2 linked regions of the Homo sapiens genome follow. The protein of the gene in region 1 purifies or fractionates together with the protein of each later gene. This does not show direct contact. Each region holds a gene or a part of one and is shown in the gene's direction. Other genes may lie near its edges.

What was found. Proteins that work in one complex are often made in the same cells at the same time.
Region 2: the proteins of POLE (region 1) and PRIM1 fractionate together in Homo sapiens (co-fractionation; 2 studies listed by BioGRID). This does not show direct contact.

What each region holds. Positions count from the first base shown.
Region 1 is NC_000012.12:132,642,343-132,649,342, reverse strand, and holds part of POLE (DNA polymerase epsilon catalytic subunit A), read left to right. Parts: coding exon 1-37; intron 38-270; coding exon 271-414; intron 415-5,316; exon of another isoform or gene 5,317-5,365; coding exon 5,366-5,506; intron 5,507-5,782; coding exon 5,783-5,936; intron 5,937-6,012; coding exon 6,013-6,119; intron 6,120-6,346; coding exon 6,347-6,523; intron 6,524-6,613; coding exon 6,614-6,837; intron 6,838-6,945; coding exon 6,946-7,000. UniProt on the Homo sapiens protein: Catalytic component of the DNA polymerase epsilon complex. Participates in chromosomal DNA replication.
Region 2 is NC_000012.12:56,731,046-56,735,350, reverse strand, and holds the end of PRIM1 (DNA primase small subunit), read left to right. Parts: intron 1-1,105; coding exon 1,106-1,204; intron 1,205-3,616; coding exon 3,617-3,636; 3' UTR 3,637-3,771; downstream 3,772-4,305. UniProt on the Homo sapiens protein: Catalytic subunit of the DNA primase complex and component of the DNA polymerase alpha complex (also known as the alpha DNA polymerase-primase complex - primosome/replisome) which play an essential role in the initiation of DNA synthesis.

The sequences.
Region 1 (7,000 bases):
CCGCAGCATCCTGGACCTTCCGTGGCAGATTGTGCAGGTATAGACCTTGATCCAAGGGGAGGGCAGTGGCTCTGCTGATGGCCCAGGGAGGGGGTGTCCAGCTGGGCCCTGAGGTCTGGGATGGGAGGGTTAGAGTGGGCCTGGAGTTTCCTGCCCATCGTAGGGAGGCCTAAGGCCCTGTGCTGGGAGCTGCAAGCTACCTGGAAGGTGGCCCCGTCTGTGGGTTCCAGTGTGTCCTGTGATGTGCTGTATGTCCGTGTGGCCTTTCAGATCAGCGAGACCAGCCAGGCCGGCCTGTTCAGGCTGTGGGCGCTCGTTGGCAGTGACTTGCACTGCATCAGGCTGAGCATCCCCCGTGTGTTCTACGTGAACCAGCGAGTCGCTAAAGCGGAGGAGGGTGCTTCGTATCGCAAGGTAGGGAGGAGCTGGTGCTGCCTCTGCAGTCATCTGGGCAGCCTGAGGTGGCTTTCCCATGATCTAGCCTGGCCTCCAGCCTCCATCTCCTCAGTACCTTATGGGGATGTTCTAGGAATTCCTCAAAACAACGTGTGTGAGCGCTGAGCACCGAGCCTGGGGCAGAGCGAGTGCCGGGAATGGAGCTGCTGGTGTCCTTGTCACGATGAGCTTGTCTGCCCGCGAGGTCCATGTTGCGGGGACAAACCAAGTGGCATTGGTTAGAGATTGTGAACTCTGTCTCCGTAGGCTCTTTGGTTGTTAACAGCTTTATTGGGATGTAAAGTTACGCCATCCAACTCACCCATTTAAAGTGCAGAATTCAATGACTTTTAGTGGCATGACTATTGCCAGTCAATAGTGACATTTTCTTTTTTTTTCTTTTTTTTAATTTTACTTTGATTTCTGGGATCCATGTGCAGAAAGTGCAGGTTTGTTACATAAGTAAGCACATGCCATGGTGGTTTGCTGCACCCATCACCCCGTCACCTGGGCATTAGGCCCCACATGCATTAGCTGTTTATCCTGATATTCCCCCTCCCCTCACCCCCCCATTCGGATATTTTCATCACTCCAAAAAGAAACCTGGCATCCCTTACCTGTCACCATCCTCCCCCAGCCCTCAGTAGCCACTGATCCACTTCCTGTCTCTGGGTTTGCCTGTTTGGGCATTTGATGTAAATGGAACCCTACAGTAGGTGGGTCTTTGTGCTGGGCTTCTTCCACCTGCAGAAACTGCGAGGGTTTTCATGTGGCCATGAGTGCGCTGAGGCTCTTAGATGGCATCTCCACCCGAACTCCCCGTTGTTAATGTGTCGGCTCAGCACATTTCTTGACTGGATGCTGTGAATCACGTAAGAAGTGACACGTAGTTGGGGAGATGAGGTGTGCATATTTGTACCTACACAAGGAGGTTTTCTGGAGAAGGTGAAACTCGATTCCAGCCAGGTGATTCAGTAGAATGTGCATATAGAAAGTAGACGCAGAGCCAGGTGTGGTGGTTCACACCTGTAATCCCCGCACTTTGGGAGACCGAGGTGGGCGGATAACAAGAGGAAAGCGGACGCAGAGGCATCGAGACCACAGAGAACAGGTGGGACTGTGGGGTTTCTACACCTTCCTTTCGATGCGTGGTGCTGTGGTGCTGTGGCCGTGTGGAAGTGCCCTAACTTTTGGGATGTTTCCCTTTATGACTATCAGCTCATCTCGAGGGAGGTTCTGGCGCTGTGTGAATATTCTGTCCTCAACGTTTGACTGGATGGTGTCAGCATCCATGTCTCGTGGGGTCCATGGGGCTCCAGGATGATATCTTCAGATTCTGTTCCTCTGTGTGTATTAGCTGTTTCCTTTATAACGAAGAGCTTTGTGCAGATCAGGTAGAAATGAACTCTATTCCTTAAAAAGCAAGATACGAGAGGGATAATACGCTTTTTTTTTTTTTAAGCAAGATAAATGCTTTTTCCCTTTAAATTATTTTTAATTTTCAAGGTAGGGCATGGCAAAATGGGTTTATTCCTTTCATTTTTCCTCTCTTTTTAAAGTATTACTATGGATTAGAGGATTTTTGTTTAACTTTTTTGTTTCTGTTTTTGAGAAGGTCTCTCACTCCATCACCCAGGCTGGAGTGCAGTGGCATGATCTTGCCTCACTGCAGCCTTGTACTCTTGGGCTCAAGCAATCCTCCTGCCTCAGTGTTTAATGTTTTAACATCAACCGTAGCCAAATCCCGCCCAACACACACACGTTAGGTATGTTAAGGTACACGGTAGGCCCTCACTTTATGTTGTTGATAGGTCCTTAGAAACTGCAATTTTAAGTGAAATGACTAAGTAAGATGATGTATAATGAAACAGATTTTTTTTCTTCTCAGAAACTATAATGAAACTGTGTTGGCCAGGCGCAGTGCTGCATATCTGTAATCCCAGCAATTTGGGAGGCTGAGGCTGGTGGATTGCTTGAGCTCAGGCATTCGAGACCAGCCTGGGCAACGTGGCAAAACCCCTTCTCTACAGAGTATTTTTTAAATTTATTTATTTTTATTTGTTTGTTTGTTTGTTTTGAGATGGAGTTTCTCTCCTGTTGCCCGGCTGGAGTCCAGTGGCGCATCTCGGCTCACCGCAACCTCCGCCTCCCGGGTTCAAGAAATTCTCCTGCCTCAGCCTCCCAAGTAGCTGGGATTACAGGCACGCACCACCACGCCCGGCTAATTTTGTATTTTTTAGTAGAGATGGGGTTTCTCTGTGTTGGTTAGGCTGGTCTCGAACTCCTGACCTCAGGTAATCCATCCACCTCGGCCTCCCAAAGTGCTGGGATTACAGGTTGAACCATGGCGCCCGGCCCCAGAATTTTTTTTTTTTTTTTTTTAAAGGAAGAAAGAATGTTGAACAAAATGATGTTATTTGAGGACCTGCTATACATTACTTCACTTAACCATCACAGTTTCCAGGAATCCATTGATGTTAAGTGAGGACTTACTGTAATTTACATATAGTTAAGTGCAGATTTTTAAATGTGCAGTTGATTGGGTTTTTGGACACATGACTATGCCTGTGTCACCCACACCCCCACCCAGGTGCAGAACGTTTCCATCACCCGGGAGGGTGCTCTTGTCCCCCTGTGCAACCTTCTGCTGGCCTGATTTCTGTATTTCTGTAACTGTGTGCATGTGACTTTCTAGAACTTCATATTAATGGAACCAGACAGTAGACTCTTTGGTGGTCAATATCTTCTTGAGACTCAAATTATCCCAAATTGGGCTGGCCAGATCCCTTCAAGCTGGCACCTGAGTCCTTTTGACATGCCCTGTTGGTCTTTGAAAACTTCCTTGCTTTTTGGCCACTAAGAGAGGCCAGGCTCACCTTGAACTTCCAGACGTGGAATTAGCTGTTCCTCTAAAGAGCCTGAGCCTCGTTGAGAGGTTATGTTGAGAAACCAAGCTTAGAGCTCAAGGGGTATCATTTCATCTAGATTCCTTCAGTGAACAGCCAGGAAATATATACATTTTAAAAAGTGCAATTACACTAATTGTTCCAGTTCATATTTACCAGAACATAATTTTTCATTTCTTTGATTTTGTGTGTGTGTGTGTGGGTGTGTGTGTGTGTCGGTCTAATTTCATGTTACTGGAAAAATCTAACCCTACTGGTTCTCTTCTCGCTTGAGAATTATTCAGATTTTCCTGGTTGTTGTTACGCCAAATAACGCTTTATTGCAACCTGGACATTTTACATATTTGAGACTTTGGGTATTTTTAAAAATCCTTTAGCGTGTCAGGTTTTTTTGTTTGTTTGTTTTAGCAACAACCAACACGGTTAATTCCAGTGCCCAAGCTCTTCCTTGCCTCTTTGTGCAAAGCTTCCAATGTCAGCTCAGCCTCCAGAGCCTCTGCTGCGTTGTTTTGGGTCACCTGTGCAAGTGCAGCTCGTAGTGAGCCTGGGACTTGTGCTGCTGGTTCATGCATGAAGCTAGGGTGCTCCTCTCCAGGATTCCCCCAGCCCCCCACACACGAAGCTAGGGTGCCCCCTCTCCAGCTCTCCTCTCCAGGATTCCCCCAGCCCTCCACACAGGGAGCTAGGGTACCCCTCTCCAGCTCGCCTCTCCAGAATTCCCCCAGCCCTCCACACAGGGAGCTAGGGTGCCCCCTCTTCAGCTCTCCCAGACCCCCCAGGACCCCACACAGGAAGCTAGGGTGCACCCTCTCCAGCTCTCCCAGACCCCCCAGGACCCCACACAGGAAGCTAGGGTGCCCCCTCTCCAGCTCTCCCAGACCCCCCCAGGACCCCACACAGGGAGCTAGGGTGCCCCTCTCCAGCTCTCCCAGACCCCCCCAGGACCCCACACAGGAAGCTAGGGTGCCCCCTCTCCAGCTTTCCCAGGCCCCCCCAGGACCCCATTCACGAAGCTAGGGTGCCCCTCTCCAGCTCTCCCAGACCCCCCCAGGACCCCACACAGGAAGCTAGGGTGCCCCTCTCCAGCTCTCCCAGACCCCCCCAGGACCCCACACAGGGAGCTAGGGTGCCCCCTCTCCAGCTCTCCCAGACCCCCCCAGGACCCCACACAGGGAGCTAGGGTGCCCCTCTCCAGCTCTCCCAGACCCCCCCAGGACCCCACACAGGGAGCTAGGGTGCCCCCTCTCCAGCTCTCCCAGACCCCTCCAGGACCCCATTCACGAAGCTAGGGTGCCCCTCTCCAGCTCTCCCAGAGCCCCCCAGGACCCCACACACACACTCTGGCTCCCCCAGGGGCTCTCTTTCCGTTTCTCTGACTAGGAAAATGTGATTTCTCTCAGTTTTTGCCATCTACACCCTCAGGTTAAACCCATGAGAGAATGGAGGAAGATGAACTGGGAACCTCCCCAGATCAGTGTTGACTGCTGTATTCTGACAGCTCTTGTCTATTCTCAGAGGCTGCAGGTTGCTTTTCAAAATTGCGTCCAGAGGCCAGGCATAGTGGCTCACACCTGCAGTTCCAGCGATTTGGGAGGATCACTTGAGTCCAGGAGTTTGAGACCAGCCTGGGCCTCATAGTGAGACCTCCTTTCTACAAAAAAAAAAAAAAAAAAAAAAAGCCATCCGTGGTGGTGTGTTCCTTGTCCCAGCTACTCAGGAGGCTGAGGCTGGAGGACCACTTGAGCCCAGGAGTTGGAGGCTGCAGTGAGCTGTGATCACACTGCTGCACTCCAGCCTGGGCAACAGACTAAGACCCTGTCTGTAAAAAATAAATAAATAACATAAAAATTACATCCAGAGTTTTTAGTTGTAATCATTGAGAGAGGTGGACTGTGGCGTGGTGGGTGTACCCCGTCGCTAGGGGCACCAGAAGTCTAGGACTCCGAATAGCGTGTGCTTTGTGTGTGTACCACAGACATTACCACTTACGCCCAGTGACGAGATCATCGTCGTATTCTCGCCAGGTAAATCGGGTCCTTCCTCGCTCCAACATGGTCTACAATCTCTATGAGTATTCAGTGCCAGAGGACATGTACCAGGAACACATCAACGAGATCAACGCTGAGCTGTCAGCGCCAGACATCGAGGGCGTATATGAGACTCAGGTGACTCCCCAGCCACCCTCGACTGAACTGGGGGAGGCTCCAGCAGGGTGGTATGGAGGAAAGAAACCCGCCCAGGGTGTGGGCTGGGGAACAGCAGCGACAGTGGACTCGTTCCCACAGGTGAGGTGAATGTCAGCAGTGTGTCTGCCAAAAGTGGCCTTTGGGCAGTGGGCCGGGCAGCTGCAGGGGCACAGCCACATCCCGGGCAGAAGTCACGTGGGCAGCCAGAGCCCCCACCATCCAGCCCTTGCCGGCCTGTCTGCCCGATTCTTCCAGGTTCCGTTACTGTTCCGGGCCCTGGTGCACCTGGGCTGTGTGTGTGTGGTCAATAAACAGCTGGTGAGGCACCTTTCAGGCTGGGAAGCAGAGACCTTTGCTCTTGAGCACCTGGAGATGCGCTCTCTGGCCCAGTTCAGCTACCTGGAACCAGGTATGGCCTGCACCAGCCGCCCATCATGTGCCTGCCTCCCACACATCTGGGGTGACGGTCTTGTTTCCTTCTCCAGGGAGTATCCGCCATATCTACCTGTACCACCACGCACAGGCCCACAAAGCGCTCTTCGGGATCTTCATCCCCTCACAGCGCAGGGCATCCGTCTTTGTGCTGGACACTGTGAGTCCTGGGCCCTCCATGGCAGCACATTGGCTGGGGCAGGGTTTGGGGAAGGAGGACATCTCCCAGGGTGCCCAGGCCCTCCAGGTCTTGTCCTCAAGGGCCTTTGCCCATGAGTGCTTGTCGTGATTGAATTGGCAGTGCCGTGGCAGTGGTGGAGTCTGCCCCAGGGCTGCCCCCACTTCCTCCTGCGCAGGGGGAGGCTGACGTGGCCTGCGTTGGTCTAGGTGCGCAGCAACCAGATGCCCAGCCTTGGCGCCCTGTACTCAGCAGAGCACGGCCTCCTCCTGGAGAAGGTGGGCCCTGAGCTCCTGCCACCCCCCAAACACACCTTCGAAGTTCGGGCAGAAACTGACCTGAAGACCATCTGCAGAGCCATCCAGCGATTCCTGCTCGCCTACAAGGTGAGAGTGGTTGGGGTCTTGCTGTGTGAGCCCCATCTTCTTTGAGGCTGGGTCCACCCAGGTCTTTTCTTCCATTTTGCCTTGACCCAGGAGGAGCGCCGGGGGCCCACACTCATCGCTGTTCAGTCCAGCTGGGAGCTGAAGAGGCTGGCCAGTGAAATTCCTGTCTTGGAGGAATTCCCACTGGTGCCTATCTGTGTGGCTGACAAGATCAACTATGGGGTCCTGGACTGGCAGCGCCATGGAGCCCGGCGCATGATCCGTCACTACCTCAACCTGGACACCTGCCTGTCGCAGGCCTTCGAGATGAGCAGGTGAGCACAGTACTGTCGTTGTGGGCCAGTGGTCCCCAGGCAGAGCCGGCCTCGGTGGTCTCTGTGACCCGGCGATGTGCCCCGGTGCTGACCTGTGCCCTGGTGCAGGTACTTTCACATTCCCATTGGGAACCTACCAGAGGACATCTCCACATTCGGCTCC
Region 2 (4,305 bases), about 76 Mb from region 1:
TGAGGCAGGTGGATCACGAGGTCAAGAGATCAAAACCATCTTGGACAGCATGGTGAAACCCCGTCTCTACTAAAAATACAAAAACTTAGCCGGGCATGGTGGCACACACCTATAGTCCCAGCTACTCAGGAGGCTGAGGCAGGAGAATCGCTTGAACTCGGGAGGCGGAGGTTCCCGAGCCAAGATTGCACCACTGCATACCAGCCTGGCAACAGAGCAAGACTCAAAAATAAAGGCATGGACCGGGCGCGGTGGCTCACGCCTGTAATCCCAGCACTTTGGGAGGCCAAAGTGGGTGAATCATGAGGTCAGGAGTTTGAGACCAGCCTGGCCAACATGGTGAAACCCTATCTCTACTAAAAATACAAAAAATTAGCTCATTGTGGTGGCGGGCACCTATAATCCCAGCTAGTCGGGAGGCTGAGGTAGGAGAATTGCTTGAACCTGGGAGGCGGAAGTTGCAGTAAGCCGAGATCGCACCATTGCACTCCAGCCTGGGCAACAGAGTGACACTCTGTCTCAAAAAAAAAAAAAAAGAAAATATATGTATATATATTATATATATATATATAAATATAAAAGACTTGTATGAAAGAGAGTATCATATATCTCAATTTTTATTACATGCAAAAATAATATTTTAGCTGGGCATGGTGGCATGTGTCTGTAATCCCAGCACTTTCAGAGGCCGAGGCTGGGAGATCACTCGAGCTCAGGAGTTCAAGACTAGCCTGAGCAACAGAGTGAGACCTCGTCTCTACAAATACCAAAAAAAAAAAAAAAATTGGTTGGGCATGGTGGTACATGCCTGTAGTTATAGCTACTCAGGAAGCAGAGATGGGAAGATCCCTTGAGCCCAGTAGATCGAGGCTGCAGTGAGCCAAGACGGAACCACTGTACTTCAGTCTGCATGACAGAGTGAAATCCTGTCTCAGTAATAATTTCACCTTTTTTAATGTGACTAATATAGTATTTAAAAGTATGTATGTTTCTCTCATATTTCAATTGGGCAGCCCTAGAGAATTCTTATAAGAAACTTAGTTGTGTTTTCATGTTATTCTTGCTGCCAGTATGCTAATTATAATGTACATTCTTCATAATTTAGATTATAAGAAGACCAGTCTAGCACCTTATGTGAAAGTTTTTGAACATTTTCTTGAAAATCTGGATAAATCCCGAAAAGGAGAACTTCTTAAGAAGAGTGGTAAGACGCTATGCCTTTCCCTTCTATCTAGTTAGATCTTATTATTAGTAGAAATGAGCAATTTTTGAGTTCTAGTCTTTCTTTGCCCTCCTCCCAAAATTTACAGATTTATCTTACTATCCTTAATGTTTTGGAAATTGAGGTTCCTTAATTCAATTTAACACATAGTTATTAAACACATTCTAAGTATCAGGTCTATAAGGGAGACAAAGATGAATTAACATCATGCCTCCTTGCCCTTAAGAAGTACTAACTTGGCCAGGCACGGTGGCTCACGCCTGTAATCCCAGCACTTTGGGAGACCAAGGCAGTTGGATCACTTGAGGTCAGGAGTTCGAGACCAGCCTGGCCAACATGGTGAAACCCTGTTTCTACTAAAAATACAAAAAATTAGCTGGGCGTGGTGGCAGGCACCTGTAATCCCAGCTACTCAGGAGGCCGAGACATGAGAATCGCTTGAACCGGGGAGGCAGAGGTTGCAGTGAGCTGAGATCACACCATCGCACTCCAGCCTGGGCAACAGAGCAAGACTCCATCTCAAAAAAAAAAAAGAAGTACTAACTTAATACAAAAAAAAAAGTACAAAATGCTAAGAAAGAGATTTTATCTGATGGACTCTGAGATTTCATATGAAAATGGTGGTATCTGAACTCCTTTCAGTGTAGCTGCTGTAAGAATTCTAATCCCTAGCCGGGTGCAGTGGCTCACACCTGTAATCCCAGCACTTTGGGATGCTGAGGCAGGTGGATCGCCTGAGGTCAGGAGTTCAAAACAAGCCTAGCCAACATAGTAAAACCCCATCTCTACTAAAAATACAAAAAATTAGCTGGGTGTGGTGGTGGGAGCCTGTAATCCCAGCTACTAGGGAGGCTGAGGCAGGAGAATCACTTGAACCCAGGAGGCAGAGGTTGCAGTGAGCTGAAATTGTGCCATCGCACTCCAGCCTGGGCAACAAGAGCAAAACTCCGTCTCAAAAAAAAAAAAAAACCCTAGGCCGGACACGGTGGCTCACACCTGTAATCCTAGCACTTTGGGAGGCCAAAGCAGGTGGATCACCTGAGGTCAGGAGTTCAAGACCAGCCTGGCCAACACGGTGAAACCCCGTCTCTACTAAAAATACAAAAATTAGCCGGGCGTGGTATTGTGCGCCTGTAATCCCAGCTACTTGGGAGGCTGAGGCAGGAGAATCACTTGAAGCTGGGAGGTGGAGGTTGCAGTGAGCCAAGATCGCACCATTGCACTCCAGCCTGGGCAACAGAGCAAGACACTATCTCAAAAAAAAAAAAAATTTCTAATCCCTAATGCCAATATACTATACCATAAGGTATGAGAAGGATTTCCACAAGCAGAAATATGATAAGATAAAGGGTATGGAGGTGGAAAAAGGCCAAGGGTTGTTCATTCTTGAAGGAACATCAAGAGCAAAGACAGACAGGAAAGCATCCAGTTACTCTGGAAGCCATCAAGTAGTACAGCTAATCTAGTATATGGTGTGTCCAGAAGTGATGGGCTATAAATCCAAAGAAGCAAACTGAATGGCCTTGAATTCCAAGCTTATGTGTTTGGGCTTGGTTTTGGGCTTAATAGGAAGCTTTTAAAAGTTCTGAGGAAGGGAATGCCATGATTTGTAGTTTTTATCTAGAAAGATAAATCTGGGCAAGACAGGGACTAGAATAGAGCCCAAGAGGCCAACTGCGCTATTGCCACTAGAACAGTAGCACTGGAGATCTCCGAAAGGTGCAAATACTGGAACCATCCTTGAGACTTGCTAATGATTTAGAAGTGAAGAGATGAAAGATGGAAGGGAAAATGTTATAGAAGCCAGGGGAAAGAAAAGTGCAAGATTATCAAGTGTCAGGTACAGTAGGAAACTAATAAAATCCTGCTGCATATAATAACTGGAAAGAAACACAAAGAGGATAGCAGTGTCAAATGAAGGGTACTCTAAATGGGAGACATATGAGCATATGTATAAGCCAATATGAAAAAAATCAGCAGATTGAATATTATTCAAGAGATGAAGGCTACTCTAGAAAACTGTGACAATGTTATAGCAATACAAATTATCTTGCCACTTCATTTTTTATTTAAATATGTGATAGTTTAAGCAGTAGTGCCTAAGATAATGCTCTACTCAGTAGACACTCATATGTGTGATTATTGGATGAACAACAACTCTGAGCTTGGAAAGCCTGGTTGAAGCTGCCATTGCAACTGGCCGTATTAAGTCCTTTGTATCCTCACTGTTCCATACTAGCTCAGCCTATGATGTGGACTTCAGCAAATGTGTAAGCAAATCTTTGTGCATGATGTGTGTTAAATAGAAGCATTAGGCAAAAAAGAATGTAAAAGTAAATGGGCTTTGTTTTGTTTCCTTTGCTGTTCTTCCATATATTATCTATTCTATTTTAGATTTACAAAAAGATTTCTGAAGACAGAGCTCCTCAAACCATTGTGGATATCTTCTGCCTTCAACCACAGATCAAATACTTCAAGAGCCATTTAATAAATATGGCAGAACTATATATGTGTCTTAAACCTCAAAGTAAATTTTCCTTGAGAAATAATTTATGTTGAAAAGATTTCCTGGCCAAGTGCAGTGGCTCACACCCGTAATCCCAGCACTTTGGGAGGCCGAGGCAGGCGGATCACCTGAGGTCAGTAGTTCGAGACTAGCCTGGCCAACATGGTGAAACCCCCGTCTCTACTAAAACTACAAAAATCAGTCGGGTGTGGTGGTGCATACAGTAATCCTAGCTACTTGGGAGGCTGAGGCAGGAGAATTGCTTGAACCCAGGAGGCAGAGGTTGCAGTGAGCTGAGATCACAGCCACTGGGCGACAGAGCGAGACTCCATCTCAAAAAAGAAACAAAACAAAAAAAAAAGTAAGATTTCCTGAGACGACCAAGGAGAGTGTCAAGGTTCCTGGAAGGAGAAATAAAAGGAGGCATAAGTGGATTGCAGATAATTTTGTAAAATTCAATATTCTACAAGGATAATTCTAAGGCTTCTGATATAAATACCCAGTTCTACTAGTTGCCATATATAGAGGTAAGTGAGCAGTAATAGGACTGTCATCTCAGCTCACTTGATACGTCATA